7 linked regions of the Homo sapiens genome follow. The protein of the gene in region 7 interacts with the protein of the main gene of each other region in a biochemical or structural test. Each region holds a gene or a part of one and is shown on either strand. Other genes may lie near its edges.

Region 1 (4,169 bases), on a different chromosome or scaffold from region 7:
GCCTTTTTAGCACGTTTCTCAGCTGCAAAACCATCTCAGCTGGTTTTAAAACATCCATGAAACAGACTGTGCTTGCCTTGCAAAGCCTTTGGAAAGTTCTTTCAGCAAATTTGCACAGAGGCCAAGGTCATGGGGCCAGGTCCCCATACCCTTCAGGTTCTTGAACTTGCTATTCCAGGCTTCAAGACAGGACAGGCAAGAAGCACCAAGTACCTAACCTCTTTGAGAACCCGTGGGTTCCACTGTCCACTCCACTCCTGGCTGTGGTGGCCCCAGCCAAGAAGACACGGAATTCTCTGCCCTATACCTATGAAACCACCTGTGGCTTCAGGGCTGAGAGGCCTGGGGAACGGCTACTGTGTACAAGAGTAGAACCCATCAGAAACCATCCAAGCTATGACATGCACCATTTCCCCCGTCACAGTCACAATTCCAAATCACCAAGCTCAAACATGGGTTGCAAAAGTAACACATTAGTCATCCTTCAAAAAAGGAACTCACCTGTATGTGTATCATATTTCAATTATTTTTAAGTAGAACTAAAAATTCTTAGTCCAAAATGTCTCAATTACCCAAACACTAAAAGTCCTCAGGAAAAACTGTTTCTTCCCTCCTCAGAAAGGTTCCGATTTCTTGGACAGCCTTCACATGTTCCCTCCCACACTTGGGATGGGGCTCCGTTCATTACCTTGCTCCGAAGCTGAGGGCTTCTCCTGTCTCCATTCCAGGGTCTGCAGGGTGTGGCTCCAAGGAAGACGAGGAGTAATCTTCACCCTGGGTCTCTGGCCCACTTGTCTCACCAACCCCCAGCTCCCTGGCCTCCAAGGGGTCTCTGGCCTCCAGGCCAGGAGACAAGCTGCCATTGTGCCTCAGGCCGGGCTCTGGGCACTGGCTCACCCCGCCCACCCCATGCTCCCTGGCTTCACTTGGAGCCCCAAAGAGCTCCACATTCTGGGGCGCCAAGTCCTGGGTCCAGTCCATCTGCCCCACTCCACATCCCCGTAGCCCCTGAGAACCTCCAGAGTCTGGGTCACAGGTCACCTCCAAATCCCTCAGGCCCAGATTGTTACCCCAGTCCATCTGGCCCACCCCAAGCTCTTTGGACTCTCCAGGACTGCAGACTGCCCCTGGGGCCATGTTTCTCAGCCCAAGGTCAGGTGTCCAGTCTGCCTGTCCAACTCCACGCTCCCTTGATTTAAGGAACTCTCCGGCCTCCACACCTGACCAGTCAGTCTGCCCCACGCCACTCTCTCTGGCCTGGCTGTGGCCTCCTCCCTCCCCGACCTCAGCCAAATCTTTGCTCTTCACATTAACATCAGAAGTCCAGTCCTTCTCCCCAACTCCGATTCCCCCCGGCTCTTCAGACCCTCCACTTTCCAAACAGCCGGTCAGGTTCATGTCTCTCAAGCTCAGGCCACCTGACCAGCCCATCTGTCCCACGGCACTCTCCCTGGCCTCGCTCGAGCCCCCAGAACCCACACAGCTGGACACTTCCAAGTTCCTGAGACCCAGCTGGTCAGTCCAGTCCACCGAGCCAGCTGTGGTCTTCCCAGGAGGCACAAAGTGACCACCTTCCATCTTGCTAGAAGGGCTAAAGCCAGCACCACTCACTCTGTCGTTGCCAATGATGCCAAACTGATAGCTCCTCTCACTGGCCTCGATGCAGAAGTCCCGGCTCCAGTCCTGCTGCCCTGGGCTAAATGCTGCCTCTCGCTGGGGGCCAACACTGAGGCTAAACTCACCGACCCAGCCTCGCTTTCCCATCTCCCCATCTTCCAGGTCAGCACTGCCAGGGCCCTGAGCCCCTGCCTGCTGTCTCTCCTGATGCCCTCCCACCTCCTGGCTAGCATCACTGTTTTGCCAGCTGCTCTGGTCTCTCTGCCCGAGTGCCCCATCCGGCACGTGGGCAGTGCTAGGACTGAACAAGCCCCCGGATCCTCTCTCTCCTGGCCGGCCAGCATCCCTGCTGCCCTCTCCAAGGCTGTCTTCCACACTTGGAATCTTCTTCTCAAATTCCTCATCCTGTTGCTGGGCTTCCTCGGGGCTGAACCCAGAGCTCAGGGGTCTCGTTCCAAAGCTTCTGTCCTGGGCGTCAAGGGTCCTGGAGCTGCCACCACTGCTGTAGTCCCTTATCCAAGCGCTCTTCCCAAACTCCTGTTCCTGTGGCTCCGCAGCCCGGCTGCCATAGGTGCCGAGTGACACATCTCTCTTCTGAAACTCCCAGTCCTGCTCATCGGCATCCTGGCTGCTGTACCTACCATGGTGGTCCCTCTTCCCCAAATCTTGGCCCTGCTCGTTGGCATCTTGGCTGGCATAAGCACCCAGAGAATCTCTCTTCCCAAATTCCCAGTCCCCAAGGCTTACATCTCGACTACTGTAGGTACCCAGTGAATCTCTCTTTCCGAATTCCTGGTCCTGGAGTTCTGCATCCCGGCTGGAGTAAGTGCCCTGGGAATCCCTCTTTCTGAACTCCCAGTCCTGAACATCTGCCTCCTGGCTCCGCTGAGTGCCAAGCTGGGCTGGCTTTCCAACTACCCGGTCCTGGGCTGTGAGCACCCCTGGGGCAGACACTTTACTCTGGTCTTGGCTGCTGCTGGCCTCCATCTCCTCCTGGCCGATGCCACACCTGCTGGCCCACTCCCTGGTGCTCCCTTCCCCTGCTCCTTGCCCATACTTGCTGGTCCAGTCCCTCTCTCCGAGACCTGGGTCTCCTCTAGGGCTTGCACCCCCAAGGCCATAGTCCTGAGAAGCACCTTGACACCAGCTGGAAGGACTGAAACTGCTGGGCTGTGGGTCTCCTGTGATCCCAAATTCACTCTGCAGATCTTTCTGGGACCAGCCAAGGAGTCCCTGGGAATAAGAAAAAAAAACAGACAAAGAAACAACGATTAGATTCCATCAGGGTGGGAGTCAATCCAGCAGAGTCAGCGCTGCCTAGTGCCTGAAAGCCCCACTTTGGCAACAGAAAGCTGTGTGACCTTGAGCAAATCACTTAACCACTCTGGGTCTCAGCGTCCTCATCCTTAAACGAGGATAATTCCTATTGCATGGGGCTGGTGTGAGAGGATTAAATGAGATCATTTAGACCAAGCACTCAGCATAGTGCTTGGCATGCAGTGGGCACTCAATCGATGGTCCCATGGTCATGTTTACAACTCTTGGGCAATACTTGGCTAACAGCCAGGAGAGGAGTGGTCTTCACACAGGAATGGCAGGCAGTGCACTTTCCTTTTGATTAGGAGAGGTCAAGATTCAAAGCCTCTCTGCGACTTCCCTTGCAAGGCAAGGTTCCAACACCAATGACAGCTTTTCCAGCCCGTCCTCCCCCATGCCCCATCTGACCCCCATCCTCCTATAAGTACCCAGGCCCTTCTTCCCCAGCCAAAGTGCCGTCTGCTCAATCTTCCCCAGGAAGACCTCTCAGCCCTCACCCTGGCCCAGGAAAGACAAGAGGGGCAGCCTCTGGCACAGGGGAAAATCCCAGCCAGGGCTTCTTGCACCCCACCCCCCACCTCACGCTCCCTGACTCACCCTTGTGGGCGGGAGAGCCCTGGGCTCAGGGCTTCGGAGCCGGCCAGCCTCATCCCTCAGCGCAGCGTTGGCCAGCAGCCGCTCCAGGATAGACATGCTGGCCTCCCCATCCCCAGGCTGGGCCATGGCCCCCCGCCCCCAACCCGCCTTGGGGCTGCTGGGTGCGGCCAGCCGGGCGCAGGGATAGAGCTGGGCTGCTACCCGCGCTGGGACCTGTCCGACGGCTCTGGCGCTGGCTCTCCCTCACCCTGGCCCTGCTCCCTCCGGAGCAGCTGCAGCTTGGGCAGCCCCGCCCAGGAGCCAGTTGAGTCACCCACATCCCGGGACAGACACACCTACTACAGGAGTCAGCTTAACCCCTTCCTGCTCCTCCTTCTCCCCGCCCCGCAGCCCCCAGAGGCCCCCTGGCTCCTCCTTTCCTGCAGCCCCGCCCCTTGCAGCCCAGGCCCGGCTTGAGAAATAAATTTCGAAAGCCACCTGGCCCCCGGCCCTTAAATTCAGAGGCAGCCTGGTAGGAGAAAGGGCACTGGGCCGGGAAACGGCGCTGGCCCGGGCCCAGCCACCAACTTGCTGGATAACTGCACAAGGCTAACCTCCTCTGAGGCCCAGCTGCCTGTCTACAAAGCAGGTCTGGAGCT
Region 2 (4,169 bases), on a different chromosome or scaffold from region 7:
GCGGCCCGCAGCCGTTCCAGCTCATTGCCCATCTGCTCTGCCTCCCGCTCCATAGCCTGCAGCGCTGCCTGTGTGCTGCAGAACTGGCGTCCCTGTTGCTCTTCCAGCCACTCGGGCTGTCTGTCTCCTGCCCTCGCAGGCTCCTTGACTAACTCCCGGGAGGCTGTTTCCTGCTGCTCACCTGCCTTGCGCACCAAGGTCTCCAAGCGGGCCACCTCTTTGCTGGTGGCAGCCATCTTTTCCTGCAGAGTGGAGAGGTCATCTGCAAGCTTCTGGGCCCTGACTTCCTTCTCTTGGACCTGCTGGAGTGCTCTGGCCAGGTTGGCATGGAGCTCAGCTAGTTCGTTCTGCTGCCGGCTTATCTGGAGCTCGCTGTGGGATTCTATGCCTGCCACCTTCTCCTTTGCCTCCTGCAGCTCCTGGCGGGCCTTCTCACATTCCTCCTTCAAAGTCATCAGCTGTTCCTGGAACATGGCGCCATACTGTGCCTCCTCTTGCTGGCTATCCTCATACCGCTCACGCCAGGCAGCTACTTCTTTGACGAGCTGCTCACACTCACTCTCAGCTGTGTGCTGGGCAGCCATGGCCTCTGCCAGCTCCCGCCGCAGGACTTCAGTCTCAGCCTGATGGGCCTCCCCAAGCTGCTGTAATCGAGCCTCCAGCCCCTTGCGCCCAGCCCTCTCTTCTTCCAGCTCCTTTCGTTCCCGCTTATGCTGCTCCACCAGGCTTCGGGTCTCTGCCTTCAGCTCAGAGATACAACGCTGCTGCTCTTCCAGGGCATCTGCAGCCCTGCGCTTCTCCTCTTCAAGGCTGCCCTTGGTGACCTTCAAGGACTCTTTGAGGGCCTGGAGCTGCTCCTGGAGCTGGTCCTTCTCCTGGGCCACCCTTTCTTTCTCAGTTGCTTTTTGCTGCTCAGACCGCAGCTGCAACTCTAGCTCTGCAACCTGGGCCTGGGCCTCATGCTGTTCCTGGCGGGCTGTCTCAACACAGGCCTGGAGTTCCTCCACCTTCCGGCTCAGCTCTGCCTTCTCCCGCTGGGCCTGTGTCACTGAGGTCTGGGCACTGTCCCGGGCTTCATTAGCCACCTGAAGTTGCTGCTGCAGAATCTCCAGCTTGGCAGCCTTCTCCTTCTCCAGTGCCTCCAGCTGCTTGAGAGCCGCATCCCGCTCCCTTAAGGAGGCCTCTCGCTCCTCTGCAGCAGTGGCCAGTTGCTGGGCATGGTCCTGCCTAGTTGCCTCCTGCTTCTCCGCTACCTCCTTCAACTGCTGCTCCTTCTGCTTCAGGCTACTGCTTAGCTGCTCCACCTGGTGGCGGAGGCCCTGGGAGGCCTGTTCTTGCTGTTGGAGGGTCTGTGCTAGCTGGGCCTGCTTCTCTTTGGCCTGCTGCTTCAGGCCAGCCAGTTCTTGATCCTGTTGCTGGATGGTGGCATTGAGTGTGGTGAGCTCAGAGGTCAGAGAGGCCACCTGGGCAGTCAACCGGGCCCCATGAGCCTGGGAGGCCTGCTCCAGCTCTTCCTTGGCCTGGCTGAGGTTGGAGATGGAGCTCTGCAGGTCAGTGATCAGGCTAGACAGCTGCTGCTTTTCTTCTTCGAAGTGGCCCCGCTCAGCAAGCAGCTTGGCTTCCTGCTGGCCTCGCTCAGTCTCCAGCATCTCTACCCTGGCTTGGAGCTGTGTGTTGTTTGCAGCAAGAGTGGCTGCCTCTTGCTTCAAGGTTTCCAGCTGGTGGTATAAAGAGACAAACTGGGATCAGCATGACTCCTCAGTCATCAAGACTCCTCTGGAAATGGAGGAACACCAGGAACCCAAATGTACTGAATGTGAGTCCACACCAACCAGCAGCACACAGGTCTTTCTGTGCATTCCTACCTGCAAGACATCACCCAGCACCTCGCCCTTCTCCTGGGGTGGGTTATCCTGCAGCTGGGACAAGTGTTCTTCCAGCTGTGAAAGTTTTCCCTGAAGGATTTCGTTCTTCTCTTCAAGGCATTTCTGGGAGTAAATGAGACCCATGTGAACAGAGAGGGGGAACAGGCACCAGATTACCACACAAGCCCTCATAAACATCAGCAAACATGGGGCCCATCATCTTGTTACCAAGATCTCCTTTTGCCCTGGCCTAGAAAAAAGCAGAAACCATGGAACTGGGAGCATGAGGGACCTGATTCTCTAGACCTAGTTCTAAGGCACAATAAAGTCATAATGTAACCTGCTTACTACTTCCCCAAGGCTGCTGAGTTTACTTCAAATTTCCTTACCGTATACCCTTCCTCAGATAAGTCTTGAGTCCTAGATTATCCAAATCACCACCAGCTGCCCACCATCCTCTGGGCAGCAATACCACTGGCAGCAGCTGCAGCAACCCCCAGTCCCAAACCCACTTCTTCACCACTGTTCACTAAGCACCTACAATAGGCTATGCTGGGTTCATCCCTAATTTTTTTTTTTTTTTTTTTTTTTTTGAGACAGAGTCTCGCTCTATCGCCTAGGCTGGAGTGCAGTGGCGAGATCTTGGCTTACTGCAACCTCCACCTCCCAGATTCGAGAGCTTCTTCTGTCTCAGCCTCCCGAGTAGCTGGGACTACAGGCATGCATCACCACACCCAGCTTATGTGGGAGGCAGCTACTACCATTCCTCTTACAGAGCAAGAACCTGAAGCAGATGCTAAGTGCCTTGATCAAGGGCTACATGGTTATTAGTAAGTGGCCAAATTGGGTTCTTACCAATAGTAACAATCACAACTGGTTCACTGAGAGCTTACTTTACACTACACGATGTGTGAAGTGCTTTACATACGTTTTCTCATAATAGGTGATGAGGCAGCTACTCGTTACTACTCCCATTTTAGGGAAAGGATGCTTAGAAAAACAGACTGATTAACTTGTCCAAGATCCACATCTTGTGAACAGCAGAGATAGGATTGAAAGGTGTACTATAAAGTGAGGGCATTGACTGGGGAAAAAAAAAATAAGTTAAAAAAAAAAGGTGTACTAGACTGAAGCCCACAATCTTTCAATTACAGCACACTATTGAACCTTGAAGAGAAAGCAACTTAATACCCAAAGGCCCAGAAGAGCACAGTGGTAAACTGGACTCAGCTTTGCACATGTGGTCAAGACTGTGGCTGTGACCCCAGCAGAGGGTTACCTTGTCCTGCAGGGCTGCGCTGAGCTCCTTCTCCAGCTGGGCCTGCTTCTCTAGCCACTCCTGAGTGGCCTTGCTGTGCTCCTCCGTCAGCTCATTGAGGGCATCCTGTAGCTGCTGCAGATGACTGGCAAACTCCCGCAGCTGAGACGGGCAAGTGAGAATCCCCATCACCCAGAGTCAACGCTGACCCCACCACTGCTGTCTGCTCCCAGAACCCCAGGGGCTGGATGCCTCCAATTATCCTGCCAACCCTCTACAAACCAATCACAGCCATCACACCTCTAATTCAGAACTACAAATCAACATTTAGGGTCACAGCCCAGTACCCGGGAAGCCGCCAATTATGGGATAAGGAAAGGGGCAAAATATGCAGGTCTCTGGAGAGACTGAAGCATAAGACAGGTGCTGGGACATTCTTCTCAACCCTCTCTTGGGGAGCCTTCCAGACCACCTCAGCCCTGAGGGGCCTCCATGCACACACCACCTTAACACCCACCTTAAAGGAAAGGTCTCCATTCTCCTCCGAAAGCTGGTTGATTTTGCGATCCATCTGGCTCTTCTCTGTCTTCAGGTCCTGGCACTGCTTCAGGGTTTCATGCAGCCGCATGGTAAGGCTGCGAGGGAGGGAAGCAGTGAGAAGAGAGTATGGGTTCCTGGCTGGGTGAGGGGAGGGGCTGGGGCCTGGGAAGGAATGCAGGGAGAGCTGTACCTCTCATTCTTGTCACGCAGCTCCTCAAGCTCCTTGGGCTCCAGTGGGCTGGCCGCCTGCTTCTCATTCAGCAGGGCTAGGCGGTCAATGCGCTGCTGCATCATGGCTATCTGTGCATCTGCCCAGAGTGGAGGGAGGAGGAGAGGAGAATCAGAACTATGTGCATGAGCGGAACTATGTGCACAGAACTATGTGCACAAGGGGAAGGGAGGAGACGGCATAGGGAAGAGGAGGAATATGGTATCCAATCTAAGGGAAAGAGAAGATGGGGACAAAGACAGAACCTAGCTTCCAGGAGGTCAGCCTGACCACAGGC
Region 3 (3,848 bases), on a different chromosome or scaffold from region 7:
TTTTGTACTTGTTCCCTCCCCCCTGAACCTAGGGCCTCAGTTTCTCTCCATATGCAATGCAAGTGGACTCCACTATTCTGAAGGTCTCTTCCAACTTGGCCCTTTGCATGTCTGTGATCCCACCACGGATCTTCTGTCATTATGTGGACAGAACGCCATCACAGCTCCTTCAAACCCAGGTGGAATGACATTAAGAAAAGAAAATGACAGTAGGGTGAGGTAACTTTAAACATCTGGCACCTTTTTTTTTTTTTTTTCCCTGAGACAGAGTTTTGCTCTTGTTTCCCAGGCTGGAGTGCAGTGGTGGCACCCTCAGCTCACTGCAACCTCTGCCTCCCTGGTTCAAGCGATTGTCCTGCCTCAGCCTCCTGAGTAGCTGGGATTACAGGCGCCCGTCAAGACACCTGGCTAATTTTTTGTATTTTTAGTAGAGACGAGGTTTCACCCTGTTGGCCAGTCTGGTCTCAAACTCCTGACCTTAGGTGATCCACCCGCCTTGGCCTCCCAAAGTGCTGGGATTACAGGCGTGAGCCACCGCGCCCGGCTACATCTGGCACCTTCTTTAGCGGTATCCCACAGGAACCTCTTACTTTCTGATGTGTCTGCATTTCAAAGTACAAGGAAGTAGAGGTACCCAGCAGAGGGGTTCTGAAAAGCTTTGCATCCATCAACACATGACTTCAGCTAAAACCTCTAAAAATCTTGGTCTCTAGAGAAATCGGTTGTGGCATTAAGGACAGTAGTGGCACCTGCTCTCCCCAAGGCTGCAAGGTGAACTCTCATTCCCCCAAGAATAGCCCCAGCCTGTTGCTTTTACCTGAACTGGTTCCTACTTCTGGAGGTATTTCTTCATTATGCTCGCAACATCGTCGTCTTTCCTCCCCGTCCCTGGCTCTCTCCGCTCGGGGGACGTTCGCTCGCCACCGTCACCCGCAAGTCGTGGGATTCCTGGTCGACTTTTGATGCTGTCAGCACTTTTGAAGGACACGATGGAGCCGGAGGATGAGGACGAGTCAGACAGGTGAGCGGGATCCTCCTTGGGCTCCGGGCTCTTCTTCAAAATGGTCTTGATCCCCGAGAGAAAGGAACGGTTAGCCTCTTCCGTTTCAAAGTGGATGCTTGAACGCTGTGAACCGTCTTGCCCACCTTTGGCTGATCCAGCCAAGGAGGTAGGTGTCTGGGGCTTCCGGATAGCTGGGAGGAAGTCATCGAAGTCCACTTTGGTCTTGCGTTCGTAGTCGAGGCTTGGGAGTTTCCAGCTGAATGGGTCACTGCCTAGAGGTTCCTCCATCAGGTGGGCAAACTGGCGGTTCTGGAAAACAAGCGGCTCCTTTCCAAGGTCTGGACAGCCCGCATCGTCCACAGAGGACTCCAGACACCGCCTCCGAGGACGCAGTGTGGGCGACAACAGCATGTCCCTGGGTGTGGTCGGAGAGCTCAGTTTTCTCCCCATGCTCGGTCTGGATTCTAAGAGGGACTCGCAGGAACTGAATTGGGTTTTCGACTTTTCGGGGAGTAGGGTTGTGCCCCCAACACCGTCTGAAGAGATGCATTTGAGGCTGGTGGACCTCAAGAGACCACCAGCGGCCCCTTCGATTTCCAGGGGTGACTTTGCCCCAACCCTCAGCGAGAGGTTTCCCTCGTCACTGCCAGCCCTGCCCCTCCTTAGTGTGGAGGCCCCAGTCGTCTGGTAAATGGGGAGAGTGGGCCAGTCCTCTAGGCCCAGCGTGGACCCCTGGCCTCTCTGGGCTCTCTTCCTCCGGAGCCCTTCCACGAACTCCGAGAGGGCCGCTGAAGGACTGGGCAGCTTTTCCCTCGACAGCGGGGATGTATTTGTACTCCGAGAAGCCAGGGGAGAGGAAGCAGGTTCTAATCTCTCTGTGGACTTTCTCTGGACGGCAAGCACTTCGCCGTCCCCAAAATGACAGTACTTTTGCCGGCGGACAAAGTGGGGAGAAACAGGCTTGTCTCCTGAGGTCTTGCTGTGGACATTGGTGGACCGGGCTCTGCTCAGTGCCAATGCCGACTGGGTCCTCTCAGTGTCCCCAGCCTCTTCGTTTATCCTGTGCCAAGAAGAAAAATGCAGTCTGTAGAAATTGTGCAATTCATACAATTTGTGCAATCGGTGTGAGAGCCCCTAAGCACAGGCACTAATATTATTTTTCTTTGGAAATACCATCCCTACCGCACTCTCAAATGAACCATATGATTTAATGTGCAAATTCAAGCCATGTAAATGATTTCTTGTTGCTTTCCGAATGCAATTTCTATCTATAATTAAACCCAGCTAAGTACATTTGAGTAGATTAAAACTGCAGCTAGGACGGATGAATTAGATTTATGAGGCATCATATCTGACATGATAGGACCTATCATCCCAGAGCTTACTGTGAAATAAGTAGTTTGCTTCTTCAAGACCGGAAGGGGACATGCAGTGGGCTGTTTGTTTATTTGGGGCCAAGCCTAGAGGACAGTCCCACCAAGTGGGGCTTCTGAGAGTCAAGACCCAAATATGTGTCTCCACGGGATACCCCATGACATCCCTGATTGTTTCATGGGGTGACGGTGTAGGTAAAATCTTTTTCCCCCAAAAGGGAAAGATTCACATGAAATCAACTTAAAACCAAGACTATACACAAGAGGACAGACGGTTTCTATTCTGGGACTACACCAGACGTGGTTTTTATGCAGAGGGAGTTTGTGGCAGCAGCGCCAAAAACACTTTGCCTCTGAAAAGTAGGAGGCTCACAGTGGGACCAAATTATAGACTGTAAAATAAATGGCATCATTCAAAGGAGAGAGACTGGAGTCCATCAACCTTTCCTTTAATAAATAAAATCTATTTGTCCTCTCTCTAAGAGAAACGACCCCATTCCCTCCCCTCACCAAAGTTATAATTTATTTTTTAAAAAAGTAAAAAAGTTGCCAAATGTCAGAGTGTTGGCACTGCAGATAAAGCCACTGTGGGCTCAGGCCTGAAGAGATGCTGAGGGCGATGCACACGCGGGTTTCCAATCATGGGGTCCCTGCCTCTGAGTGCTTTGTTGCTGGAACTGTAACAATCAGGACGATTGTAGGATTCAGAACTCTATGTATAAAGGGTGACTGAGATTCTGCTACAAGACTTTGAGGAAGACTTCTTGCTTACCCAGTTGGGTAACACCACTTCCACTCCTGATCACACAGGACAGTTTAGGAGAAATAGAACTGACCACAGTGACCCAATGGGCTTTTGAATCTGGGAAGGAAGCCAACCCAAAGCTCCCTTGAGGTGATGGCCATGGAAGGCACGGGAGGGAATGGCTGGGGTAGGAGAGCAGTGTCTTTCCCAGGGAAATAGGTGGGGGCTGAAATAGATTCAATGTTTGTCTCCCCCGAAAATTAATATGTTGACACCTAATCCTCAATATGATGATATTAGGAGGTGGGGCTTTTGGGAGGTGATTAGGTCACCAGGGTGGAGCCCTTGTAAATGAGATTAGTGCCCTTATAAAAGAGGCCCCAGAGGGCTCCCTCACCCCTTCCACTGTGTGATGACACAGTGAGATGGCAATCTATGAATCAGACAACAAATGTAACTGCCAGCACCTTGATCTTAGATTTCCCAGCCTCTAGAACTATGAGAAATACATTTCTGTTGTTTATAAGCCACCCAGTCTATGGTGTTCTTGTTATAGCAGCCAGAAGAGACTGAGACAGGCACCTAGACCCTGCCTTCCTGAGCGCCCCTGAGGACAGAGCTTCAGTGATCCCACAAACCTATCTCCTCCAGGTCTGGCAGGAGCTCCCCAGGCTGGGGGCCTGTGTGAGATCGCCATGGCAATGATGGGCCCGGCTAAAGGGCTTCA
Region 4 (4,169 bases), on a different chromosome or scaffold from region 7:
ACAGAATGAGACTCCATCTCCCAAAAAAAGAGAAAAGAAATGAAAAGAAAAGCAACTGTGAATAGGCTGAGGATCAACGTGGGGACTGACTCTCATCAAAAGAAAAACCAGTAAGGACCAGGTCAGCCATTCTCCAGACACTTCAGGCAAGGAGCCCAAACCAAAGGAGGAAAAACTACGCATTCAGTTGTTCAACTGCCTCAGCATGGTTAATGTATTCACTTGAAGTAGAAATGTTTTGAGACTTAATGACCATGATTAATATCCCTCTGCACCCCCTCCTTCCTACCACTTGGGAATCTTTGGGGAATAGTTAGGTTCAGAGCCACCTACAAGAAAGGTCCCAGGTTGTCATTCTTCATACCTTAGAGGAATTCTCCTGATGCTAACACATTCCCAGGTGTTTCACAGAATTCCACTAAAGCTGGGGGGTAAGATTCATCCTGTCGTCTTCTCATCCTACCCACAACCTCAACCAGTATGTACCATGCTCCTGCCAGGAGATACAACTGCACCAACACCAGGTACCTACCCACTCCTCGTCCTCTGCCCCATCCCCCTGCTCTCGGATCTCCGCTGCAGCCCCCTTCGAACACTTTTGGGCCATGATGTTGTCTGTCCAGGATGCCCCTGTCTTTCCATCACCAGTGAAATTACACTTGGTCACTGTTCCAGCCTCAAGTTTGGCCAATGAATCTGAAAGAAGAGATGAAATTGAATGTCCTCTGTCCCTGTGGCAGAAACATAGTGAGGGCTGGGCCCATTATGGTGGGGTCCCCTAGGCCTGGGTTAAACCACTGTTTTCTCCAGGCATAGATGTGGTCAATGAGCCCCTGGGTGGGACCCCCAAGGTATGGTGGGAGAGTCGCTCACAGGAACCATGGGATTGGGTGGCACCCGGGGATCCAGGCTGTCGAGCCCAATGGCCCTAGGGCACTTGTGCAGGGATTTAGGAGTAAATCTCAAGGGCTTGGTCGTGTCCCCATGGAGGCCAGCCCTTGCCTGCTCCCATGAGCTCTAGGCAGAAGGGAGGCCAAGAGCCCCCATGGGCCACACAGGAACAGTGGGCCACAGTGAGGGTTGCATTGCTCACCCAGGAAGGGACCATCGCCCCGAGTCTTCAGCCGTACCCCGGCCCCCAGCTCGAGTTCCATCACCTCCATCTCTGACTCGGGCATCCAGAACGCCACTGTGTGGTCGGGGGTGAGGCTCTCTGTCAGCGCGAGCAGCTCTGGCTTGTTGACCAGCCCCTTCAGCGCCTCGGGCGTGAGCCTGTCAGTGTCCCCCTTGGCTTCCACCTCTGCAGGCACAGAGCGCAGGAGGGTCATTATCACTGTGGCAGCAAGAACTTCCGGAGGGCCTCTCAGGAGCCAGGTGAGGGCTGAGTGTTTCCAAGCTCAGTCACCCGGAGGCTGGGACTCAGTGCCCATTCTGCGAGTCCTCATCAAGGAACTCCACAGCAGAGGCGGACAGGCATGAGCTGGGGACAGGCAGCCTGGTGCAGATCTGGGCTCCACAATAACTTAGGCAAGTTACATCACCTCTCCGTACCCGAAAAATAGGATAAAATCAGAACCTACCTGACAGGACTGAAATGACGTATAAAGGAAATAAAGCATGTAGCACAGCGCCTGGCACATGGACCCCTAGGTAAGCATTCATATGTTTTCACTATTCCCATCTTACAGATGAGAAAACTAAGGCTTAGAGAAGTTCAGTAATTAGCTCAAGGTCACACAGTAGTAGAGGAGGCAGGATTCAAAGCACCCCAACACATTCCATCTTGAGACCCCGGTGGCCAGGCAGGGTTCTCTCCAGGCTCTCAGGGTCTACCTGGCTGGGGTGAGGTCTACTGGAACCAGGAGTAAACTCTGGTAGTCCCCCTCCTCTCTCCTGGCCCTGGCAGAGTTCATGGACTAAGGGAGGAGTCCTAAATCCAGGTGCTGGATTAGGGAAGGGGCACTCCCGGACTGTGAAGTGGGCCCAGCCTCCCAGGACTGTGTGTTCACAAGGCCACACCCCAGCACAGCAACCCCGGAGCTTGTCCCACAGGCTGCCTGCGCCACGCCAAGCCCAGGTGGCCGCACTTCACTGGAGAACATCCCAGCCAACCCATGAACACATTTCATGGAGCACATTCCATTCATGGTGTACAACCTCAGCCAACCTCTGCCAGGGGTGCCTTCTGGGACTGCACAGGTGGCTGCTCCCACAGGACTGCTCCATCCTCCTCAGCCCTCTGCCCTGACACCCTCTAGACAGAGCATCTCACTTTCTTTGCAAGGTAACAGAAGCCATCAAGTGAGACCTCTCACTTCCCTGACCACTCACCTGTCAACCCTTTTTTTTTTTTTTTGAGATGGAGTTTCGCTTTGTCACCCAGGCTGGAGTGCAGTGGTGCAATCTCGGCTCATTGCAACCTCTACCTCCTGAGTTTGAGCAATTCTCCTGCCTTAGCCTTCCGAGTAGATGGGATTACAGGCGTGTGCCACTACACCCAGCTAATTTTTGTATTTTTGTTAGAAACGGGGTTTCACCATGTTGGCCAGGCTGGTCTCAAACTCCTGACCTCAGGTAATCCACCCATCTCAGCCTCCCAAAGTGCTGGGATTACAGGCGTGAGCCACCACGCCCAGCCATCAACTCACGTCTGACCACACAAAACATCTCCTCTTTCCTTCTGTCTCAAAGGATAGGAGGCCTCTCCTCCTGCCTCAAGCCAGCTCCTCCATCTGGGCTGCAGATAGACCCCTTCCCCCCTCCTGAGGACCTGTCTCTCTCTCCCCACTCCTTGACCTTTCCTCAAGGCCTTCCTGCGTTCTGGCTTTGACACCTACTGCTCCAGACCCCATGTACCCCCACCAGAGTCACCGGTGAGCTCTTAACCTGCAAACTTCTTGGATGCTCCATATCTCAGACCTAACTAACCCGTGGGCAGTGCCTGACCCCACTGCTAGCTCCTCACGCCTGTTCCCCTTGGCTTCGCGGGGCTTTAGAGACATGACACCTTCCCATCCCTCGGACCTTTCAGTGGCTCCATCTCCTGCTCTTCCTTCTCCATCCATCTCCTATTGTTGCTATTTCCCAAGACAACCTCCTGGGCCCACTTCTTTTCTCCTCCTGGGTAACTGGGTCCACTTCCATAGCTTCAATACTCTCGATGTGCTGCAGCCCAGTTCTCTCCCCAAGTTCTAGAACTATCCTCCAAGGCCTCAGTAGACCTCTACCCAGCAGTGCTCCTGGCAACTCAAACTCAGTGTGTTCCAAACAGACCTCCTCCCCACAAACCTCTCGCCCCTCCATTTCCCCAAGTCTGGCACCGATGCCCAACCCCTGGCATCATCACGACTCCTTCCTCTTCCTCCCCAGTAGCCAAGCCAACACTGAGGCCACTGTGCCTCCTCTAGCTTGAGCTCCTCCAGTCTCTGCACCCCCACTGACAGGTCCTTAATCCTGGCCTTCTTATCTCTGTCCTAGGTGACCCTAACAGCTTTTTCACAGGCATCGCTGGGCTCCAGGCTATTTGCCTCCCTGGAGATTTTCAAACACAGACCTGATCACATCACCTGCCTACTTAAAACCTCACTACAGGGCTGCCCTGCACCCTTGGTTAGAGTTGAGCTCCTCAGTGCCCGCCCCTCCTGCTGCCTGCCCTGCATGGCTTCTCATACCTGGGTCAGGAACTCTTCAACTGCCAGGCATTGGGCACCCTCTGCCTCTCTGAAACACCCTGCAAATCCCTGGCACCTGGCTGACCTCTGCTTATCTTTCAGGATTCAGTCCTGTTATTCCCTGCTCTAGGGCATCCCCAGCCATGCCTGCCTGGGCTCAGCACCCTTCACGGGATCCAGGCCCGGGCCTGTCCATCTCCTCTACTGGACTAAGAACATTTCAAGTATACGACTGGGTCTTGTTCATCCCTGGACCTCTCAGCATGTGGCACAAGGGCTGGCACATGATATAGATGGTCCCTAATGTTCAGAGAGTCAATGAGTAACTGAAGGTATGAATGAATAAAGTGATAGAGTCCCACTCAACCTCAAAACCTTCTCACCCAGGGGCAGACAGCAAAGAGGCTCAACCAGAGACAAAATCAGGAAGAAGAAGAAGATCATGGAGGGCTTGCTATGGTTGGAATGTATCCCCCAAAATTCGTACGTTAACAGGAG
Region 5 (4,930 bases), on a different chromosome or scaffold from region 7:
TGACACCATGCCCAGTTAATTTTTGTATTTTTAGTAGAGACGGGGTTTCACCATGTTGGCCAGGCTGGTCTCAAACTCCTAACCTCAGTTGATCCACCCATCTCAGCCTTCCAAAGTGCTGTGATTACAGGCGTGAACCACCCGACCCGGCCACAAAACCGTTTTTAAATGTTTGCTGAATGCACAAATGACTAATCTCCATTATGTATTCCTACTTTTCCTTCAAAACATTCCTCATAAAGCTTAGTGGAAAAGCTTTGGAGATAGACAGATCTGCTCCACCCACTCTGAGCAAATTACTTAACCCTTCTGAGACTGTTTTCTCATCTTAAAACGTGAGAATTACATGAGGCAATGCACAGAACCTGCCATGGTGGTGATTAAGTTTGACTTTACTAGAGGAAATACATGACTCTGGTACACCTTAAAGTCATATACAGAGTCAGAGTCTGAGCTGACATGAGGATCCTAGTTCCTTTACCCTCCTTTCCTCAGGAATCTGAACCATCTGATATCTGGTGCCCATGTAGCTACTATAAACCAGGCACAAGTCAGGCACACCTCTCTAAGCAGGCCCCAGCAGCTGTGGGCAGGTCCAAAGCCCCTACAGATGTGTGTCTTCTGGCCACTCTAGAAAGCACTGAGGGAGTGTACAGGGACAGGAGTCTACCTAGGCTGAGTGACTGGGCACAGACATACACATGCAGGTTGCAGTTCTGGCTTACATGCTGACTGCTGTCCAGACAAGGTGGTTGATTGGTTAGCTGACTCAAAGGTTTCCGAAAAGGAGACAGGAAACACTCCTGGATCTGGGTCTCACTGCTGGATTTCCGTTTCCTAGGAGTCTAGGAGAGAGAATTGGGAAAGGTGAAGTCTAGAAGACCACAGAAATCACCATAATGGCAACTAACACTTGAAGTGCTTATTAAGTGCCAGGCACTGTGCTAAATTCTTCACACATGTCATAGTGTATCATCTTCATAGCAACTCTATTATGTAGAGTTATTATCCTTATTTAAGAGGTGAGAAAACTAGAGCTTAATGAGATTAAATAACCTGCCTAAACTGAGCGGGGCAATGGAAGAGGTAAATAAAATGGGCCTCTGAAGAGCAAGTCTACCAACAGCATGGAGTCCTGGTGGCCCAAAGCTTCACTCCAAAAGCTCCATGGAATGATGGAGCAACCAAACATTTCGCTGAGTTTCCAAGAGGCAAGAATACAGCTGCCTTCAACTCCCAGGCCACTGAGGCCACTCCCCACTCAGGCCACCCATGGCTGTGAGGACACTGGCACTAAAAGCATCTTCAGAAGCAACCAGCAACTGACAGCAGACCCAGATGCAGAGAATGCTGCCCCAAGTTCAAGTCTGAGACCCATGTACATGGCAAGGGTCAGCCAATGTGCCTCCTTCACAGGTAGAGAAGCCCCTTGCACACCACGGTACAACTATTGAGCAAGCCCCATCAAGCCATTAGGCAAGAACACACTTGTACCAGCTTGCCAGGATATTTGAAGCCTCAGTGATCCTGTAAGACACACCTGAAACAAACACCAGCACCCCTACCCCACACCTTATTCACACACTGCTCCTGCCAAAAAGTGCCTTCTAGTCCTTGCGTAGCTGATCCCTTCCTTCAAAGTTCCAGTGGCCAAGCCCCCACTTCTTGAACTGCTCTTATTCTCTGAAGTCCATGCTGCACTGTCCTATTTATTTTGGTTTACATAGGTCCTGCCCACAGCCAGCCCCAACAAGCCTCCAAAACAGGAAGCAGAGCCCAGGGCCCAACCTAAAGTAGAATATACTGTACTTGAGTATGAGCAAGGACTGGAAGGACACAACCTGTCAGATCTAGGCCCAAGTGAGCCCAGGACTCCAAGGTAGGCCCAGAACACTCTACTGTTCTGTGACACTGGGCAGGGGACAAAGAGCAAAAGAGCCAGCTGCTAATTGCTGTTGTGTAGCCCTTTTTTCCAAGCAGAGTCAAAAGGTCCAATCCAACTGGCTCTTTTGCTTATCTTTTCCCACCAGGAAAACTGAGGCTATATTAGCTTCTAGTGACTACCCTGAGGATAAAGATTTTACTAATCTTGTTCAATGCCTGGCACATAGTAAGTACTCACTAAAAGTTTATTGAACATACAAAAGAGGCATCTGGAATTGGCTATGTAACCCTAGAAACCAAATCCTGGCTTCTTTTCTGTCCAAACAGCTCTACCCACCTTCCCTGTCCCCTTGAGTGCTCACCACTAGGCCAGGTTGCCAGTCTTCATCATCACAGGACCTGCCTTCAGGTTTTCTCTTGGCCAGCTGGCTGGGAGCCAAGCTCCTCCTCTGTAAAGGGAGAACAGAAACAGTGCCTGCAAGGATCCTGCAGCCTAGGCCTACTAGACCCTGACCCAGGGCTATTCCCAGTCTCCCCTAGGCCCACACTTACCATCCTGGGCCTAGGAGTTTAAAACGTCAAGTACCCATGAGCCAAAGGTCAAAAGCAGGCAGCGGCTAAGAGTGTAGGACCAGGGTCTAATCTGTAGAGGGGGCTGCTACATTATTGAGAGGACCGGCTAATTAAAGAGGGGGCATGGATGGCGGGAATCCATCCAGGAACTGGTGTTTGGAACCAAACTGTGAGAGTGGCCGTCCCCAATAAGCCGAGACGAGAGATTAGGCCAAAGAGGAAGAGACCAAGCAGAGATTAGTGTGGGATTGGGGAGGAGGCAGGTGGAGTCCCAGACTGGGCGGAGTGGAGTGGGGATGATGGTCCCAGTCCGGGTGAAGGGAGGAGGTAGTTGCGCGGCGGGGCGGGGTGGGATTGGGGGTGGGTAATCACTGGCCAGGAGAGAGAAGCTGGGGTGAAAGTCCGAGGCCCGGGTGGGGAGGGCGAGTCTGGAGAAAGGAAATTTCCCAGGGCTGGAGGTGGAAACCAGGATCAGACTCAGGGAGGTCGAGCAGGAAGCCACGCGGGCGTGTAAAAAACCCAGGTTAGGAGGGGAATACCAGGAGGGGCTGAAAAGAGCGACAGAGATAGACGCAGACCCCAGCACCTCTCTCTCAACCTTCCTGTTCCCAAAGCGCGCGTTAACAGCCGCCAAGACTCACCGACCCGCCAAGACCGGGTCAATCGAACCTCCCGCCGCGCTGCCGTCGTATCACCCATTGGCTGCGTTCGATGAGTTCGGCGCTCGCGACCCAAGGAAGAGGCGGGAATAGTGCTGCGCCCAATGAGGAGTCTGGGCTCTGGAGCTGGAGAAGCTAAATTGACCTACTAGGAGGCGTGACTTAGATGGGAGGGCGGGGCCAACAGAGGTGGGCGGTTGGGCGAGAAGAGAGGGGCGGGGCGGGGGCGGGGGTGGCGGGGGAGGGGCGGGGCCAACAGCGAGGAGCAGTTGGGCGAGAAGAGCGGGGCGGGGCGAGAAGAGCTGGACGGGGCGGGGAGGGGCGGGGCCAACAGTGGGGAGCGGTTGGGCTAGAGGAGCGGGGCAGGGCTAGAAGAGCTGGACTGGACGCGACGGAGCGGGGAGGGGAGGGGCGGAATTACTACCTGCGAGCTGGAATTCGGCCCGTCTCGGGTGTTTGTCCCAGGTCGGTGAGCTGTGGTCCCGCAGCTATGGAAGGGAAGATTTACGCCACATTGAGCAGCAGGGGAGTTACCACCTGTAGTGGACAGCTGGGGATTATGAAAGGCGGCACATTTCTGGGAGTTTGGATTGAATCTACAGTGGTACCAGGTCTAGAGCGGAGGGCCGGGGTTGGAGTCAGGCCTCGCCCACCCAGAAAGTGGGGAGAGGCATTCGGCCCAGACTGCCACGTGGCGGGCTCGGGCAATGGGAGCCCCCGGATGACGCGACTTTCTCGCTCAGGGGTGTCTTGAAAGAAGCTGCCTTCCTCTCCAAGGCCAAACCGCGTTGGAGGAAGCGTTGTGTTTGGAGTCAGAGATTTAATCATCCAATCTCTCAAAACGTCAGTTTCTTCATATCTAAAGTGGCATTATAATAGTACCTCCCCCCCATGGCTATTCTGACAAGTAAATTAATGTGCGTAAAGCACCCAACAGTGGCATGCACAACCTAGGTACTCACTAATAATGATAAGGGTGTATTTATAGCATTTACCACCAGGCATTTCTGAGCTTCTAAGATATAACAGTTCATGTAATGCTCATGACTATGAGGTAGGTTTATTTTTGTCCCCATTTTGTAAGTGAGGAAACAGGCCTAGATAGGCTAGTAACTTGTACAAGGTCACACACCTGAGTATAGCTTAAGCCATCCTCACAGGGTTATCAAGAATTCTGAGGTCAGGCATGGTGGCTCACACCTGTAATTCCAGCACTTTGGGAGGCCGAGGCAGGAGGATTGCTTGAGCCCAGGACTTCCAGATCAGCCTGGGCAACACGGAGAAACCCCATATCTACAAAAAAATTAGCCAGGCATGGTGGTGCACAGCTGTAGTCCTAGCTATTGCAGACGCTGAGCTTGGAAGCATCGCTTGAGCCTGGAAGGTCAAGCTGCAGTGAGCCAAGATCGCGCCACTGCACTCCAACCTGGACGACAGAGCAAGACCCTATCTCAAAACAAAGAATTCTGGGCCGGGCGCGGTGGCTTACGCCTGTAATCCCAGCACTTTGGGAGGCCGAGACGGGCGGATCACAAGGTCAGGAGATCGAGACCATCCTGGCTAACACGTGAAACCCCGTCTCTACTAAAAATACAAAAAATTAGCCGGGAGCGTTGGCGGGCGCCTGTAGTCCCAGCTACTCGGGAGGCTGAGGCAGGAGAATGGCGTGAACCCGGGAGGCGGAGCTTGCAGTGAGCTAAGATCGTGCCACTGCACTCCAGCCTGGGCGATAGAGCGAGACTCCGTCCCAAAAAAAAAAAAAAAGAATTCTGGAGAGAAATATCGTTTTAATTAAGTATTAATCGGTTGGGAGG
Region 6 (3,182 bases), on a different chromosome or scaffold from region 7:
CCCCAGCCCTCTCCAGCCGCCTGCAGCCCCAGCTCCCACTTCCACCACCTCTTCCGCCCGCCGCCGGGCCTACTGCCGTAACCGAGACCACTTTGCCACCATCCGAACCGCCTCCCTGGTGAGTGTAGCCATCCTCACTCAGCCTGCTCGCTGTCTGTTTTTTAAGTCTTTTTAAGTCTAGAAATGATTTCCTCCCTGTGGCATGGGATTGAGTCTGGATTCTACCCTCATTTTCTGTTGCTGGCTCCTGCCTGCTCCCCTTAACCCTCCTGCTTCCCTCCTCTTCCCAGTGGACTGTTTTGGTCATATGGCCCAATCTGGGTGTTTCTAGCTTGGCAAACTCTTACTCCGTTTTTGTGGCCTGACTTAACTGACATCTCCTGGGTTGCCTTCCCAGGCTCCTCTGGTGAGTCAGATGCTTCACAGTTGTGTGCTGGGGAAGCCCAGTGCTGGGGGAGCCCTGTGCCTGTGGAGCCCTGTGCTGGGGGTGTCCAGTGCTGGGGAGCCCTGTGCCGGGGGTGCCCTGTGCTTGGGTGGTCCTGAACAGCATCATGATAGGTTTGCCAGATTCTGTGCCCCAGAGGGCAGGGATGGTGTTCAGATATCTGTCTCATGCCAGCAGTTAGCTCTCAGGCTTACACACAGGCCTGTGTTAACCCTCCCAGCCCCCCTGGGAGGGGAAGGGTAAGATCCCATTGGAGAAATGAGGCACCTGTGGCTCAGAGGGGCCACTTGCCCCAGTGCCTTTGGTGGCTCTCTGCTCCTGTAAGCAGGCCCTTAGTCCTCTCCTAAAATCAACTCATGGCAGTCTTTCTCAGTTCACAGGAAAAAGTGTTTAGGCTTTTCATAAAACATAGTTTTTCATCTATGTTTTTAGATCACGTTCCTGCTGAGCTGCATTTGAGCGTCAACAATCCCCTTAGAGGCCACTGATTAAGTCTAGTATGTTCTTATGGCCTCTGCTTGGTGCTGGTTGTGTTCCAACAATTCTTCAGATCCCATGGTGTTGTGCGGTACTGTGCTGAGAGGTCTTGACTGCCAGGGGCTTGGCTGCCGGGACTAGTTTGAGAGCCACTCATAGAGTCAATTGAGAATGAGACCTGAGATCAGACTTTGGATGAAGGTGTCCAAGCCCAGTGTTCTTGTTATTCCAGCATCTTGTGGCCCCGATCCCACCTCAATACCTGGGGAGTGATAGGCCGACCATGTTTGCTGAAGGGGAAGGAAGCCAACACTTATTAGATAGAGTCCGAACTTACCCCACAGCCCCTATGAGGAGGTATTATTTCCCCATTTAACAGATGAGGGAACTGGTGCTTTGAGAAGTTAACTTACTTGAGATCACATGCTTGGTAAGTGGCAAAGCTGGGATTTGATCCCAGGTATGTCTGACTCACTGTTTCAAATTAGTATGGATTGTTCCTACTTTTGTGCCAGGCCCTGTGCTCGCCACCTTTTATCATTCGGCCACACCAACTTGTGATGTAGATAATATCACCATTATCCAGTTGAGGAAACAGGCTAGAGTGGCCGTGTGTGAGGAAGGTGTTAAATGAGAATGAAACCCATGAGTTGAAAACCCATGCTCTTCCCCACGGAAGACCCCTTGTGTTAATTAACTAGGGGCCAGGCTGAGCCCCAGCTCTCACCCTCTCTCCTTCCCCAGGTCAGCCGTCAGATCCAGGAGCATGAGCAGGACTCTGCGCTGCGGGAGCAGCTGAGCGGCTATAAGCGGATGCGACGACAGCACCAGAAGCAGCTGCTGGCCCTGGAGTCACGGCTGAGGGGTGAACGGGAGGAGCACAGTGCACGGCTGCAGCGGGAGCTTGAGGCGCAGCGGGCTGGCTTTGGGGCAGAGGCAGAAAAGCTGGCCCGGCGGCACCAGGCCATAGGTGAGAAGGAGGCACGAGCTGCCCAGGCCGAGGAGCGGAAGTTCCAGCAGCACATCCTTGGGCAGCAGAAGAAGGAGCTGGCTGCCCTGCTGGAGGCACAGAAGCGGACCTACAAACTTCGCAAGGAACAGCTGAAGGAGGTGAGCTAGGGCTGCTTGGGGGCGGAGCCGATGGCGAGCCAGGTGGGTCCTGACCCTGCTTCCCTCTGCACTCGCCCAGGAGCTCCAGGAGAACCCCAGCACTCCCAAGCGGGAGAAGGCCGAGTGGCTGCTGCGGCAGAAGGAGCAGCTCCAGCAGTGCCAGGCGGAGGAGGAAGCAGGGCTGCTGCGGCGGCAGCGCCAGTACTTTGAGCTGCAGTGTCGCCAGTACAAGCGCAAGATGTTGCTGGCTCGGCACAGCCTGGACCAGGACCTGCTGCGGGAGGTAGGCATCCCAATCTCTGTTCCCCTCCCGCTCACTCGTGGATCCCAGGGACCCACCCTTTTCCATTTTCCTCATTCTTGTCTTCTTTCTCCTTGGCCCTCGAGTGTTACAGTTCAGCTTTGCTTCAGTGCCCCTTTTACTTCTCATCCCCAACAGACCCTGCCAGAATTTCCTTAGGCCTCTTTTCCCAGGCCAGGGAGGAGCTTGCCTCCCCTACACCCTCATCTCCTGCCATCCCCAGCTCCCTCTGCCAAGGAGCCCTGGCCCCTCACTTCCTTGATACTGACCAGGCCCTGGGCCCTGTGTTTCTTCCGCCATCCCCAGCTCCCTCTGCCAAGGAGCCCTGGCCTCTCACTTCCTTGATACTGACCAGGCCCCGGGCCCTGCATTTCTTCTGCCTCAGGACCTGAACAAGAAGCAGACCCAGAAGGACTTGGAGTGTGCACTGCTGCTTCGGCAGCACGAGGCCACGCGGGAGCTGGAGCTGCGGCAGCTCCAGGCCGTGCAGCGCACGCGGGCTGAGCTCACCCGCCTGCAGCACCAGACGGAGCTGGGCAACCAGCTGGAGTACAACAAGCGGCGTGAGCAAGAGTTGCGGCAGAAGCATGCGGCCCAGGTTCGCCAGCAGCCCAAGAGCCTCAAAGTACGTGCAGGCCAGCGCCCCCCGGGCCTTCCACTCCCCATTCCTGGGGCTCTGGGCCCACCCAACACAGGCACCCCTATAGAACAGCAGCCCTGCTCACCTGGCCAGGAGGCAGTCCTGGACCAAAGAATGCTTGGCGAGGAGGAGGAAGCAGTTGGAGAGAGAAGGATTCTGGGAAAGGAAGGGGCCACTTTGGAGCCCAAGCAGCAGAGGATTCTGGGGGA
Region 7 (4,169 bases):
ACATGTCATATCTCACTGAGGGCTTATTGCTTCCTCTACCTAATTTCTAAATATTGGGATTCCTCAAGACTCAGTTCTCTAACCTCTTTTTAGATAATCTTATCTGATCCCATGGCTTTAAATACCACCTAGATACACAACCCTCAGATTTAAATCTCCAGTCTACACTTTTCACCCAAATTCCAGAATGTTTGCTTAACATATTTCCTTCTGGATATTTTAAAGGTATCTCAAACTCAACACGTTTCCAACTTCTATTTCCACTGACATTACCTTACTCCAACCACTATCACCTCCAGCATAAGCTCCTGCAATGTCTCCCCTAAATAGGTCTCTCATTTCCACTTGTCTCTAGTGACCTTTTAAAAATAATAATATCACAGCCCTGTTTAAAATAATTCCTTGGCTTCCCACTGATGCTCTCAGAATAAAATTCAAACACTCTACTATGGCCTTAAAAGCTCCTTCATGAACTGGCCCTCAACTTCTTCTCTAATTTCATTTCACACGATTCTTCCCTTTCCCAACTATAATATACTTTCAGTTTGTCAAGTATGTCAGCGACTTGGTACATGCCACCCTTCTGCTTGGAATGCTCTTCCCTTGCACAAAGCATCCTCACTTCTACTCATTACCTGGTTTGTTTAAATGTCACCTCCTTAAGAAGGCTATCCCTGACCATCCCATCTAAAATAGTCCCTTCTGCCCATCCACATTTTTTCCTATCTTCACACCATTTAGTTGGTCTATCTCCCACCTCCTTCACTAGAATGCAAGCTCCATACAACAGGGATTTTTGTCTTTGCTGTTCATAGCAGTATTTGTCACTTATTAAAATTTGTAATTACTGCCTTATTTTCTAGACTCTTTTTTTTTTTTTTTTTGAGACAGAGTCTCGCTCTGTCCCCCAGGCTGAAGTGCAGTGGCCCAATCTCAGCTCACTGCAAGCTCTGCCTCCCGGGTTCATGCCATTCTCCTGCTTCAGCCTCCAGAGTAGCTGGGGCTACAGGTGCCCGCCACCACGCCTGGCTAATTTTTTTTGTATTTTTAGTAAAGGGGGGGTTTCACCATGTTAGCCAGGATGGTCTCGATCTCCTGACCTCGTGAGCCGCTCGCCTCGGCCTCCCGAAGTGCTGGGATTACAGGCATGAGCCACTGCGCCCGGCATTTTCTAGACTCTTAGTTCCATGAAGGACAAGAGCCATGTGCATCTTAATTCATCACTACTTCCCCAGCATCCTTTAGAGTACATGGTACAGAGCAATTTGTTGACATTTGCTGAATTAAGGTATCACAGTATATGAAAAGGAGTCTGAGAAGTAAAGCTAAGAAAGAATGGCATTGCAGGACTCGCGTCGGTTGGCGACTCCCGGACGTAGGTAGTTTGTTGGGCCGGGTTCTGAGGCCTTGCTTCTCTTTACTTTTCCACTCTAGGCCACGATGCCGCAGTACCAGACCTGGGAGGAGTTCAGCCGCGCTGCCGAGAAGCTTTACCTCGCTGACCCTATGAAGGCACGTGTGGTTCTCAAATATAGGCATTCTGATGGGAACTTGTGTGTTAAAGTAACAGATGATTTAGTTTGTTTGGTGTATAAAACAGACCAAGCTCAAGATGTAAAGAAGATTGAGAAATTCCACAGTCAACTAATGCGACTTATGGTAGCCAAGGAAGCCCGCAATGTTACCATGGAAACTGAGTGAATGGTTTGAAATGAAGACTTTGTCGTGTACTTAGGAAGTAAATATCTTTTGAATTAGAGAAAGTGTTGGGACAGAAAGTACTTTATGTAACTAAGTGGACTGTTCAGAAGCTTAGAGGTCATTTTTTGTAATTTTCTTTTTAATGTTTACTTTAGAGAGCTAGGGATGCAAATGTTTTCAGTTAGAAAGCCTTTATTTACTTTTGGAAACTGAACAAGAAATGCATCTGTCTTAGAAACTGGAGATTATTTGATGTTAGGTAAAACATGTAATTGTTTCTCTGGCAAATTTGTATCAGTAATTTGAAAATGAGATATTAGGAAAAACCAATTCTTCTTAAATTTAGTTCATCTTTCCTTAAAAGAACATTAAATGTAACCATTTTGTCAGATCCATGTATTTTGGAGCATAAAATGTATGCTGTTGTGACCAATAAATATAAAATATGGTAATTGGAATTAACCCCACACCATAGTATGCATTGTTATACATACTGTGTACCTAATTATGTATAGCAGTGTAGTCTCAATTATATCTAAAAGTAATTGTGACTAACAAGTATGCTTTGCCTTATTTCCACATTTAAAGTACCTGTTAATATAAGGGATTTGTAGTATCAGCTTGTTGAGCAATGACTTTGAATCTAGTTTTCAGTGATCAGAAGCAGCATTTATTTGAGTGTATGAATGGAATGATGATCACTGTGCTATAATGTACTGAAACCACCATATTACAGAAATATTTACTACATATTTTCCATCTGTAGTTTCTCAGAAGGGCTATGGATTAGTTTGAACTGTCAAATCCTTGCATACTTCTGTGACACCCCTGCCCATTTTCTGTCTTTAATTAACCAAGGTGTTAGGTGTTACTGTCACAACTGTTATGTTTTCCAGTAAACTAGAAGTACGATATTTGATAATTATATTTGTATCCTAAATTTCACCACCTAAATGTAATGTTGATTCCTCAAGAATGAAATGAAGGCACTACATTGAAATATGTTTTGTATAAATTTGTCATGTTGAACAACATTTTAGCATGGTAAGTTCCCTTAGCTATATGAATTTTGGCATGTTTCAGAGAGATCAGTAAATAAAATATTAGATAAAATATAAAAAAAAAAAAAAAAAAAAGAGAAAGAATGGCATTGCAGAAGCCAAGTAGGAAAATGTCAGAGGGGAAGGTCAGCTCTTGCTGTCATTAGCCCTGACTTCAGCCTTCCTTCCTGATCACTTCCTGGGCATTGCTGATCACACTGTCCTCCCCAAGTAGGTTATCTACAGTTGCCCTAATCTATGGTTCTGCTATCCCAACCACTTAGCACCCACCTGCAGGAAGTGCTTTTAGAAAAAGGCTTCTTAAATTGGAGAGTAAGAGAAAAAGAATCAAAATAAAGAAAAACCTGTAAAGCTACCTCTATAAAGTTATTTGATGTACCCAAGCATTTTAGAATAAGGATTACTATTCTTCAGCAGTAATAAGCATATCTGAAGTAATCAAAATGGTGACTCACAGGTTAACTCCCCCAGAAAGGAGAGTTAGATGTGCACAGAAATAGCTGGAGTAAAATAACTAGCTGTTATGAGAGACAGTGTCAACTGGGAAGATATCTGTCCCAAAGGATTGGTGATCTAAAGGAAGGTCAAGTAGTAGCCTTCTGTCAAAATAAGGCTGGAAAGAGAAGAGGGTTGCATGAAATCAGAGTTAAAGAGAAAGACATAACTGAAACTGAAGTTTTAGCTGAGGCGATCGATATGGGTAGAATGGGTAAAGTGATTATATCCACATAGTTACCAACATTCCAAGACACAGACTTCTGTGTCAATGTCTGTATCAACATGATTCCCTAGTCATTAAGATGTCTGAAACCAGTCTGGTGACTGATAGTAGAGGTATGATTTTACAGTCACACTGTAAGGACTACAATATGTGAGTGAATGTAATCTGCTATGCTGAGACAGTAGATTAATAGTCTGAGATTTTAATGTTTGAAGCCACATCTTGGGCACTTAAAGGAAATTATTTGGAGGCAGTCAATAGGTAGCTATGTTTAAAAAAAAAAAAAAAAGTTGCTTGGAGTTTGGCGAAATCTTTAGATTGAAGATACTTCCTGGCTGGGCACTGTGGCTCACACCTGTAATCCCAGCACTTTGGGAGACAGAGGTGGGTGGATCACCTGAGGTCAGGAATTCGAGACCACCATAGCCAACATGGTGAAACCCTGTTTCTACTAAAAATATAAAAATTAGCCAGGCGTGGTGGTACATACCTGTAATCCCAGCTACTCGGGAGGCTGAAGCAGGAGGCAGGAGAATTGCTTGAACCTGGGAGGTGGAGGTTGAAGTGAGCCAAGATCGCACCACTGCACTCCAGCCTGGGCGACAAGAGTGAAACTCTGTGCCTCACCCCCACAACCCCCAAAAAACCATACTTCCCAAACTGAGGAGTAATCCTTGATAAAATCT

What was found.
Region 1: the proteins of TNKS2 (region 7) and TNKS1BP1 interact in a biophysical measurement, tested with the Homo sapiens proteins (one study listed by IntAct).
Region 2: the proteins of TNKS2 (region 7) and NUMA1 interact in a biophysical measurement, tested with the Homo sapiens proteins (one study listed by IntAct).
Region 3: the proteins of TNKS2 (region 7) and MYO18B interact in a biophysical measurement, tested with the Homo sapiens proteins (one study listed by IntAct).
Region 4: the proteins of TNKS2 (region 7) and ARPIN are reported together in a solved structure, tested with the Homo sapiens proteins (one study listed by IntAct).
Region 5: the proteins of TNKS2 (region 7) and RAD54L interact in a biophysical measurement, tested with the Homo sapiens proteins (one study listed by IntAct).
Region 6: the proteins of TNKS2 (region 7) and TAOK2 interact in a biophysical measurement, tested with the Homo sapiens proteins (one study listed by IntAct).

What each region holds. Positions count from the first base shown.
Region 1 is NC_000011.10:57,307,707-57,311,875, forward strand, and holds part of TNKS1BP1 (182 kDa tankyrase-1-binding protein), read right to left. Parts: intron 3,813-4,169; exon of another isoform or gene 3,658-3,812; coding exon of another isoform or gene 3,532-3,657; intron 2,851-3,531; coding exon 689-2,850; intron 1-688.
Region 2 is NC_000011.10:72,014,543-72,018,711, forward strand, and holds part of NUMA1 (nuclear mitotic apparatus protein 1), read right to left. Parts: intron 3,972-4,169; coding exon 3,854-3,971; intron 3,759-3,853; coding exon 3,641-3,758; exon of another isoform or gene 3,286-3,640; coding exon 3,145-3,285; exon of another isoform or gene 2,817-3,144; intron 2,346-2,816; exon of another isoform or gene 1,989-2,345; coding exon 1,866-1,988; exon of another isoform or gene 1,719-1,865; coding exon 1-1,718. UniProt on the Homo sapiens protein: Microtubule (MT)-binding protein that plays a role in the formation and maintenance of the spindle poles and the alignement and the segregation of chromosomes during mitotic cell division.
Region 3 is NC_000022.11:26,024,660-26,028,507, reverse strand, and holds part of MYO18B (unconventional myosin-XVIIIb), read right to left. Parts: intron 2,064-3,848; coding exon 830-2,063; 3' UTR 818-829; intron 1-817. UniProt on the Homo sapiens protein: May be involved in intracellular trafficking of the muscle cell when in the cytoplasm, whereas entering the nucleus, may be involved in the regulation of muscle specific genes.
Region 4 is NC_000015.10:89,902,684-89,906,852, forward strand, and holds part of ARPIN (arpin), read right to left. Parts: intron 1,301-4,169; coding exon 1,094-1,300; intron 697-1,093; coding exon 533-696; intron 1-532. Other genes in the region: ARPIN-AP3S2 (uncharacterized protein LOC100526783), read right to left, coding at 533-696, 1,094-1,300. UniProt on the Homo sapiens protein: Regulates actin polymerization by inhibiting the actin-nucleating activity of the Arp2/3 complex; the function is competitive with nucleation promoting factors.
Region 5 is NC_000001.11:46,245,915-46,250,844, reverse strand, and holds the start of RAD54L (DNA repair and recombination protein RAD54-like), read right to left. Parts: upstream 3,083-4,930; 5' UTR 2,440-3,082; coding exon 2,437-2,439; intron 2,334-2,436; coding exon 2,247-2,333; intron 846-2,246; coding exon 726-845; intron 1-725. UniProt on the Homo sapiens protein: Plays an essential role in homologous recombination (HR) which is a major pathway for repairing DNA double-strand breaks (DSBs), single-stranded DNA (ssDNA) gaps, and stalled or collapsed replication forks.
Region 6 is NC_000016.10:29,983,547-29,986,728, forward strand, and holds part of TAOK2 (serine/threonine-protein kinase TAO2), read left to right. Parts: coding exon 1-118; intron 119-1,666; coding exon 1,667-2,032; intron 2,033-2,111; coding exon 2,112-2,315; intron 2,316-2,718; coding exon 2,719-3,182. UniProt on the Homo sapiens protein: Serine/threonine-protein kinase involved in different processes such as membrane blebbing and apoptotic bodies formation DNA damage response and MAPK14/p38 MAPK stress-activated MAPK cascade.
Region 7 is NC_000010.11:91,804,711-91,808,879, reverse strand, and holds part of TNKS2 (poly [ADP-ribose] polymerase tankyrase-2), read right to left. Parts: intron 1-4,169. UniProt on the Homo sapiens protein: Poly-ADP-ribosyltransferase involved in various processes such as Wnt signaling pathway, telomere length and vesicle trafficking.